Homo sapiens: one gene and its partner. The protein of the gene in region 1 purifies or fractionates together with the protein of each later gene. This does not show direct contact. Each region holds a gene or a part of one and is shown on either strand. Other genes may lie near its edges.

What was found.
Region 2: the proteins of SHC4 (region 1) and NTRK2 purify together in Homo sapiens (affinity purification with western blotting, with the first as the bait; one study listed by BioGRID). This does not show direct contact.

The regions. Positions count from the first base shown.
Region 1 is NC_000015.10:48,956,524-48,962,235, forward strand, and holds part of SHC4 (SHC-transforming protein 4), read right to left. Parts: intron 1-5,712. UniProt on the Homo sapiens protein: Activates both Ras-dependent and Ras-independent migratory pathways in melanomas. Contributes to the early phases of agrin-induced tyrosine phosphorylation of CHRNB1.
Region 2 is NC_000009.12:84,725,229-84,729,834, reverse strand, and holds part of NTRK2 (BDNF/NT-3 growth factors receptor isoform a precursor), read right to left. Parts: intron 2,182-4,606; coding exon 1,876-2,181; intron 1-1,875. UniProt on the Homo sapiens protein: Receptor tyrosine kinase involved in the development and the maturation of the central and the peripheral nervous systems through regulation of neuron survival, proliferation, migration, differentiation, and synapse formation and plasticity.

The sequences.
Region 1 (5,712 bases):
TGAGGAATGCCATGTTCCCACAATCCCATCCACTATCGCTCACCTCTTCCAACCCTGGCCTGCCCCCGAACTAGCCCACCCTTCACCCCTCCCTGGAATTCTACTCTTGGATGCTGTTCTACCACCCTCCATCTCTCTAAAACTTACTGCCTCCACCCATGCCAGTATAACACCCTCCTTTCTGCCTTACTGGTGAAGCCAGCTCAGTGTTAGTAAGAGGGTGCTAAAATAGAAGTGAATGCATCCCTGAAGGACATTCTTTCTCTTCTCTGCTAACATAAAGTGGATAAACATTATTTCCTCAAGGTAACTCTTTCTAACCAAAAGAGATCCTAATAATAAGGGGTTTCAAACAGGTAGGAAAGAAGACCTGGAGTCTCAGGATTTTAAGCAGCATTTTGTTCAAACTTCTTCTTCTTTTTTTCTTTTTCTTTCTTTCTTTCTTTCTTTCTTTTTTTTTTTTTTTTTTTTTGAGACAGAGTCTTGCTCTGTCGCCCAGGCTGCAGTGTAGTGGCATGATCTCAGCTCACTACAATCTCCACTTCCCAGGTTCAAGCAATCCTCCCACCTCAGCCTCCCAAGTAGCTGGGAGTACAGGTGCATGCAAACATGCCCGGCTAATTTGTGTATTTCTAGTAGAGATGAGGTTTCACCATGTTGGCCTGGCTGGTCTCGAACTCCTGACCTCAAGTGATATGCGTGCCTCAGCCTCCCTAAGTGCTGGGGTTACAGGCATGAGCCACTGTGCCTGGCTGAAACTTCTTTTAAATATGAGAAAATGAGGCCCACAGAGGTGAAGTGACCCACCCAAGATCACACAGCTTAGTGTCAGAGCCGTTACTTCAATGCACGTCTCCAAACTCCTAGACCTGTATTCTCCTATGGAAAAGCTACTTGAGGTAGATGTAACATTGTGGTACTGTGGACTACATCTAGTCTAGACAACAGATGATTGACAATACTAGTTTACTGGGTCAGTGATAAGATACCTTAGACAGGAGAAGACGGATGGTAAGAGTATACTGTGGGATTTATAAAGGAAGTAAAGAAAATCTTTCAACACAAATTTCTATTTGCACACAAAGCTGATGAGCTTGATACCCAAGAAGGCCCATGTGAGCAAACACATTGCAATAAATGCTCTTGGGGACTGTTTTGGGTTGAATTATGTCCACCAAAAAAGATATGCCCAAGTCTTAACCCTCAGAACCTGTGAGTGTGACCTTCTTTGGAAATAGGGTCTTTGCAAATGTCATCAAATAAAGATGAGATTATATTAGATGAGAGTGAGCCCTAATCCAATGACTGATGTTCTTATAAAAAAGAGGGAAATTTGGCCATGGACACACAGAGAGAATGCATGTGAAGACAGAGGCAGAGATTGGAGTGATGCATCTACAAGCCAAGGAGCACCAAGAATTGCAGGCAACTGCCAAAAGCTAGAAGAGACAAGGAAGAGCTCTAAGATTCCTCCCCTAGAGCTTTTAGAGACAGCGTGACTTGGCTGATATCTTGATTTCAGACGTCCAGCCTCAAGAACTGTGAGAGAATCGATTTCTATAGTAGTAAGCCACGCAGTTTGTGGGACTTGTTACAGAAGCCCTAGGAAACTAATGCGATCTGGGAAACAGTTGGCTGGGCTGGGCTGAAGTGAAGAGACTGAAATCATGCAAATGCATATCACAAGGCAAGTTCCATGGGCTGGTCCTATGATGAGGCTATCCTGCACAGTGTGGCCTCTCATCTACGCTACTCCATTCCCATACTTCAGAGGCTGCCTGTCTTGCTTGGAGGCAAGTGAGAGGTTGGGAAGTGGAGGAACATTGGAGTGAGACACACCTGGTTAGGAATCCTCAGTCTGCTACTTACTAGTTGTGAAGTATCCTGTGGATCACAGACACCTGGGCTCTCAGTGTCCTCACCTGGAGAACACGGCCTTCCTCAGGGGGTTGTGGTGAGGGCCACTGCAGTTACCTGCCAAAGCTCGTCAAGGTTGGTTTCTTTGCCTCTGCTTTATTAAGTCTTTGAGCCAAGTTGAGAATTGGAAAGGAAACTAACATTTTCAACACCTCCCGTGTGAGAAAGGAACCCTACATTCATTAAATACTGGTGCTGCGAGGGGGCTTTCAAGCCAATTCTCTCATTTTAAAGAGGAGAACACTGTCACGTTGTAGATTTTCCACATTCCCCACTATGTTGGGCACCTGGGAGACCTTTAAATGAATGTCTGCTGATGGATGAATGGACTTGGAAAGGCCTCTAAAGAAAGGAGACTCAGTCTTATGGGGAGAATGAAGTCACATTTGACACCATTTAATGGGCTTTGCCCACCTCACTACTTTGCCCAGACTGGGATCTCACTGTCCTATTTCTGGCTCAATATCTTTCAAAGAATGGTTTGCTAGGCCCCCTTCCCTGAGAGACCTTCAGGTGGTCCAAAGTCTGAGCTTCAATTAAAGTTACTCAAAACAGGTGGTCAGGATTCATAAAGTGTTTTCAGCTATATAATTTATTCTACATCATAAGACCAAATGAAGAACCATTTTTTAAAAAGAATATTTAACCCAAAGTCAACTCTAGCTTAGCGCAGATGAAAAATATAGTCCCTATCATAAAGAGAAAATATGCAAGAAAACAAAGTAAAGAGTAGCTATAACAATCCCACTTTTTACCCAAGAGTAATATGCCTTCCATTCCCACCCAAGCTACTGCCTTTTTCACTTACCCCACTTTATTGCTCTCCATAGCACTTAATGCCATCTGAAATAGTATATTTTTTCATTTATTCAATTGAACCTATCTCCGCTCACTAAAATATTTCACAATGATTCAGACCTGGTCTCTTTTGTTTACTGATGCTTAGAACTGATTCATTTTGTTCATGGATGCCCAGTGCCTAGAACAGTTCCTGCTGCATAATTGATTCATAATACATATTTGTTAAATAAATGGATGAATGGATTAGCAAATAAGTTGGGGCAGGGAGAGGAGCAGTCACATGATATGGATAAGAAGGTAGAATATGAAGTGGCTTTTTTCCTGTAAACTTTGCCCCTAAATCCACCAGCCCTGTGTCAACTAGCCATTAAGATCATCTTTCTCTCAGTTCTCTCCTATGAATCCATTATTACCAAGCAAGGTTTGATTTAAAATTTTTTATGTGCTTTTTCCTACAGATGGGAATACAGAGCTCACAACTTTGGTTCATTTGGTATGATATTTTTACTGTAAATTAATAGCTTAGCATTTCATTTTTCAAAATTGGTTCACATCTCAAAAGAATTCTGAGGAACAGAACAACAACCAGGATGGAAACCTGTGGTGAAGACAGATAAGAATGGCACACAGGAGATTTGGGCTCTAGATCTCACTCTGCTTTAACTCATCTGTGTGGCCTTTGAAAAACCTGGGGTTTGGTTTCACCATTAAGGAATTGACCTTGATAACTTCTGAGTCTTCCGTCTTTCAAAGTTAGGATTCTATAAAACTTAATAAGTAAGTTCTTTCACGTATTTTGACTTCATAAGAGATGTCATTAGCTTGTATCGGACATCACGGATATCGGCAATCTTGTGAGGTTCATTTGGGTCGTGGGGTCAGCACTTTTTCTGGAGTCAGTGATTATTGCCATGAAAAGACAGATGGTGCCCCCATTAAAAATCTAAAACGCCAGAGGAGGCACTCCCTAGGGAAACTGGAGATCACACAGCAACTCTTTTCACATTTAAAATTGTACAGGTGTGTGGGTATGGGGAGGTTGCAGGAGGTACAAGAGGAAAGGAAAGCTGAGGCAGAGGCTAGAGGATGTGTAGGTGATGGTAAGGCAAGTGCAGAGAGCCCAGGTTTGGAGACTCACTCGTTTTCCCATGAGGGCCTGGCACACACCTAATCTTGATAAATGAGAATATGCCCATGAACTTTGAGTAGAAACATGAAAATATTTCCATTATGTGCCATGTCACTGTGGGTGAGGGCGAGAGCTGCATGTCCCATACATTTATCTGCTTTAGAGGTTTTAGTTACCCATTTGCCAGGACTGCCCAAGCCTGCTCTCTCTGTAACCCTTCCAGTGTTTATTATTTGAACTTCCCTGAGATCCTAATTGTCTGTTTGTAATACTGAGATCCTAATTGTCTGTAATACAGTTCTTGGGCTAGCTCTCTATACCTTCAGATCAGACATCTCGCCTGAGTGCTAGTTTTATATGACTGTCTACCTACATATTAGCATTATTTACAAATAATTACATTAAATTTAATATGTCAAAAACAAACTTAAAATGAGTCCATTTCCTAATTTACTCTGCTTCAGTCATTGGCATCACTGATGTCATTCTGAGACTTCAATTTGAAAGTTTTTTTTTCACCCTTTACAACCCTCCATCAATAATCAATCACAACCCCAATAAACAACAATGGTAACAAAATAATCAATCTACCCACTGCTCCATAAATGTTCACTACTCTATTAGTTATATTATGATTTGAAATGATCTGCTTAATCTCCCAGGGTTGTTGAGGCTTCTCTCATTCTTCTGTCACAGAATGCCTTACCATTCACCTCCTTTCTCTCCTCTCCACCTTAATCAGTGTTCTCATTGCCTCATACCTAAACTCTCAGAGTATCTTTCTTACTGTCCTCCAAGTCTCTAATTTTTCCCTGCTTCAATCCATGTCAAATAAATCAACCAACTGGTCTTTTAAAAATTACTTTCAGCAAGTCATGCCCTACAAACCTAGGAGGATTCTCATTTATCAATCACAGTATTTACAATCTCCTCATTTGGCATTTAAGAGCTTCAGTCAACTTCGGTCTCCCAAGCTACCCGTGATCTCTATTTGTCTTTATTCAACTCATACTTGTTTGAGTACTACAAGCCACCCCCTCCCTCAGTCACCCACTATTCTCCAGCATTCCCCTTCCTCCTCCATAAGGCCCAGCCTGTGTGATGCTCCCCTGCAGCCACCACAGTGACTTTGCTCCTATTCTTGGCCTACCAGGAATCCCCTCCTTTCTGCCAACCCAGATCTGACATTTCTTCCAAGATTCATCTTCTCCTGAGGGTTCCCCATGTGAATGAATCCCAGATCACATAATCTTTCCTTTTTTCTGAATTCCCTCAGCATTCTCATATTAGCTATCTATTGCTAAGTATTATTATCTTAGTATTTCGCATGTATTCATTGATCTCATTGAAATCTGAGCTGCAAAAGGGCACAGGCCAAATCTTCATTTGCCCACATCTTGACTGAGCAAGGACAGATACAAGGCCAGTAAGGACCTTGATTTTGCCCATAGCTCATGGACAAGGCCTACTTGCTGCAGCGTAGGCAGTAAAGGCAATAAATGTGCACCGGAGAGCTAAGACTAGCTCCTGGCACAAGGTTAGAGACTCGGACGTGTTTTGAGAAGTGTTTGTTAAATGCTGAAATAAATTTTTAAAGAATAATTCAAGCCCCTTACACACCATGTGTTTCTACAGCACAGAAATCTTTACTGTATTCATCCAAAATACAATGGCCAGTATAACCTACCAGGTCTCAATCACTGATCAGATTTGAAGTCCTTGACTCTTTTTGGCCAGAATACTAGGTCCAGCGGGGACAAAGTGGTGCCATCAGCTGCCTCTATCAGAACTTGCCTCTACACCTGCCAAGTACCCACAAGTTCATGTCCTACAAGTTAGCACCGGTTCATGTCCTTGAACCAAAG
Region 2 (4,606 bases), on another chromosome or scaffold:
TACACCAACAGTACTGTGCATTGATATCAAAAGACTCAGACCACTTCTGACAGCTTTTCACTGCAGACCTTCACTCTGAATCAAGTTTTGCCCCCAAGAGTTTCAAAGGGCCACTGGTGAAATTCAAATAAGTCTGAAGTTCAGTTGTTAGTAATGTACCAATATTAGTTTCTCATTTGTGACAAATGTACCAAAGTAATGTAAGATATTAACAATGGTGGGGGAGGTGATAAGGCTGTGAACGCTCTATACTATCTTTGCAACTTTTCTACAGATCTAAAATTATTCAGAAATAAAAAGTTTATGTAAGAACAAGCAAAAAGCTACTGTCCTAAATCAGTGTCTCTGGATTTAACTGTGAAGCTATTATTCCCTCAAACATGACTTCCTGCACACTGCAAGCTAGGGATTTACTGCAGCAACCATAGCCAAGCAGCTAAACTCTCAATTAAGAGGAAGATTTAATGGAAAAGACAGCAACAGCCAGGGGTGTCTGGGTTTTGCATCCAAATATTGCTTGTTTTATGTGCTCCTGAAGGGCTACTGTTTATAAATCAAACACATATTCCAAATCACATTTTGAATATACTAAGCAAGCTTGTGCATTTAAAAAGAGGTCTAGTGAAGAGCAAAATAATAGGAACTTATCATGTAATGAGAAGGACTGCATTCTTGTTTATTGTTTTGCAGAGATGGCTTTGCATGGATCACCTTTGCTGGTGGGGGGGCCCTGGGAGCCACACAGGTACATGCAGCCCAAGCAGCCCCTGCCTTACAAGTCTCCCCAGGGTTCTATTTTCCCTTCTCTCCACCAAGTCATCTTTGCATGACTTTGACTGACTCAGAGCTACTCTGATGAGGAACTCTATTCATGTACAGCTCCCAACATCCAAACACAGGCCTTGGCCACCACATTGGTAGCAAGCATTTGGGCAATGAGACTGAGTAGGTAAGAACACTCCACTGAAGGACAGCATCTGAAGCAGGTAAATGCATGACACTTGTCCCACTGTTCCTGAAGCTCACACTGACACGCTCCTGCTGTGCCCAGAGTAGACCCCTGATGCTAGCCATCCTTTCCGCAGTCCTAGCCTTTGGCCAGAGAAGCACTATTACCACTCCTAGGAAAACAGCTCCGGAGCCAATAAAAGAATCACTCAGCTCAGTCAGCCCGGGTAAGCAAAACAGTCCAAGACACTAATTTCTCATCCATGGATGAGAAACCAGAATTCTCCTTTTTGAATTAGGTAAGAGGCTAGAAAATAAATCTTAAATGCATCACGAGCCAACCATACACAGTTCCTGCGCTTGCGGTTTTGCATGGGTTTTGCCATTGTGGGTACAAAATCTCATTAAATACTTGCAACAGTGATGGAAATAATAATAATAACCCTTTTCTCATAAGATACCCAAGCATCCTGGAGTAGTTATTAATCCAGTGTGTATCAGATAACTGTTCAAAATTATTAATTTCCTCATCACCTTCTTGGGAGGAGTACAACTCCCTGCCCCTTAACTTGGCTTTGGCCCTGTGACTTGCTTTGGCCAATGGCAGATAAGCTGAAGAGACAGTCCAGTGCACCAGCCCTGAATCTAGGCCTTAGGAAGCCTCACATCGTTGCAGTTGTCCTCTTTCACTCCACACTTATCATAACAGGCACATCTCCTATGTAGCTGCTGCTTCATGACCCTGAATTCCACAATAAATACATGCAAAATAAAACCACTCCGCTGACCTATGGATCCATGAGCAACACTAAATAATGGAGTTTTAAGCCACTAGGTTGGGGGATGGCTTATTGTATACATGATTTTGTCAACAGGTGAATGATAGACTTTATCTTCTCCCCACATACAAAAGTGTCAGTTACTCACCATCGTCAATTCCAGGCCAGCCCATGAAGTGAGCAGAAATCTGTTTCTCATCCTTCCCATACTCATTCTTGGCTATTAGAGTGTAGTCCCCATTGTTCATGTGAGTGGGATTATCCAGCTGGAGGCAGCCGTGGTACTCCGTGTGATTGGTAACATGTATTTTAGTACAGATGTATTTGGACTCATTCAATATTGCCCCGTTATAGAACCACTGAAGCGCTGGTTTGGGGTTGCCTTTCACAGTGAATGGAATGCACCAGTGGTGGTCTGAGGTTGGAGATTCGAGAAATGTGATAGTTGGTGCAACTAAATTGAAAAAGAGAGAGTTAATAGCATCAGAAAGCTCAGAATTCTCCCCATCTCGAGATGTCTGTGTCATTGATAGGGAATTTTACTCAACCATTGTTTGGCTTAGAAAAACACATCATCAGAAACTCTGGAATCCATCAGTATTTTGTATCATCATCAGGGTGGATGTAACTCCCCAAAGAGAGCTTCAGAGAGACTCCTTTCTCTGTTCTACTTAAGACCCCTGCATTACAGTCATTTCTCAAATCTATTCAGTATAAGTGAAAACCAGCTCCAAACAGATCCAAGAGATTTCTGACAGCGGAAAGAGTTCATTTGAAGTTGACTTTGGTTTCTAATATCTGTATCTTGATATTATACAGATTCATCACCAAAAAAACTCAAAATAATAAAATAATGAATACTTTTTGATAGCACTTCTTTCCTAAATAACAAAAATGACTTTTAAAATTTTGCCTGAAGCCCTGATCTCACATAACTTCGAAAACAGATCAAACTGATCAATGCAATAAATGTTGCTGCTGATGATGAATTATTATAAATATAACAAATCAACATTTATTACTGATTGTCAATAGTAAATACTCTTTGAAAGTATCACATTTCATGATAGTGTTGTCCATTTTTGCTAGGATCCTAGATGCCAATGTTTAGATCTTTTAAATGTTTGGGGTCCAATCTAAGCCTGGACAGAGTAGGGATTATTTCAACTTTAGATATAAAGCACTTTATGCTTTGGGGAAACAAACATTATCAAGTAGAATTTTTAAACAGAGTACTTATCCTAAGTGAGGGTATTTAAAATGCTTCATCTGTTCATTTTAATGTAGTCTGGCTTTGGTAATTACAAAATCAAGGACTGGAAAAGACCTTTGAGATCTAATAGCATCATTTTTTTCAGATGAAGAAACCAAAGTGCAATGAGGTTAAGTGAGCTCATCAAGGTTACTGAGCAAGGCAGATCTGGAACAAGAATCTTGAATCCTGATGTTTAATACAGTGGCCCTTCCCTCTCAGGCACTGCTTCTTGACTGTATGTGTTCATCAAACAAGAGGAGAAAAAAATCTAAGGTATTGTAGCCAGGGAACAGACAAACCCTCTGAGTGGGGTCTCTGCACTGGTTATCTTGGTTGTTAATATTTTTAGTTTGTTTTTTGTTTTTTTAGACAGATTCTCACTCTGCCACCCAGGCTGGAGTGCAGTGGCACGATCACAGCTTACTGCAACCTCTGCCTCCCAGGTTCAAGCGATTCTCATGCCTCAGCCTTCCGAGTAGCTTGGATTACAGGCGCCTGCCATCGTGACCGGCTAATATTAGTATTTCTAGTAGAGACGGGGTTTCATCATGTTGCCCAGACTGGTCTTGAACTCCTGATCTCAAGTGATCCACCCGCCTCGGCCTCCCAAAGTGCTGGGATTACAGGCGTGAGCCACCACACCCAGCCAGTTGTTAATATTATTTATAATTTATTGCTTCTGCTCTTTGTCTAAACTATGACAGATAAGGTCAATTTTTCAGAGCCTAGTGACCATACAGATATTAACCTGAAACTGAGAAAAAAACTCAAGTTTGGATATTTTTAATAGAAAGCAGGTAATCTGATATTACCCCCTTACTTGTATTCAGGTAAATCCTCCCACAGTACTACCTAGGAAGAAGCAAAGCCGATAAAAGGACCCAATTCACTTTCATAATTTACGGAAAGATTTCCAGTTACCAGTGACATTCCTCTCAACTGAGCACCTGTGCAGCTGAACTCTGCACATGTATGTTGTGACTATGTCCCTCACTCTGAGAAATGTGATATTACTAAATTTAAATGGGCAAAGTTTAATTGTTTGCTTTACCAAATATCTCTCACAGGCCTCCTTAAAATAGTCTTTGGAAAACAAAAGTTTTTAATATGTGACTTCATCTATAAAAATTCAATTAAAATATAATTTGGGGAGACCCTATATATATTATACATATGCATATATATATACATAATATATATATAATATATATAATGTACATATATATATATTACACAAAATAAGGTCCATACATGTGTAGATACACACACTTGTAGACCTGTGCTATGAACCAACCACTACAAGGACCACAGTGGGGCAGGGGCCACACTTACCTTCCTCCCACCAGCCCAGGTCCCCACACCCAGGGCCCATCATTCCTTCCACCATGCTCAAATGAATTTTGGGTTAGGTGCTGATTTAAGGACATACAGTTGAAAGTGCTTGCATATGTTTGGAGATAACATTGACTTCAGGCTTCTGAGTGGGTCAAAATGATGAGAAATTATGAGTTTAGTACCCACTGGGCATAGTGATTGTACTAACAATGATAAAGGATTACAGCTGATGATTTCAATCATTCACTCCAGCAATCACACACTGAATGTGTGCTATGAGTGAGTGTTA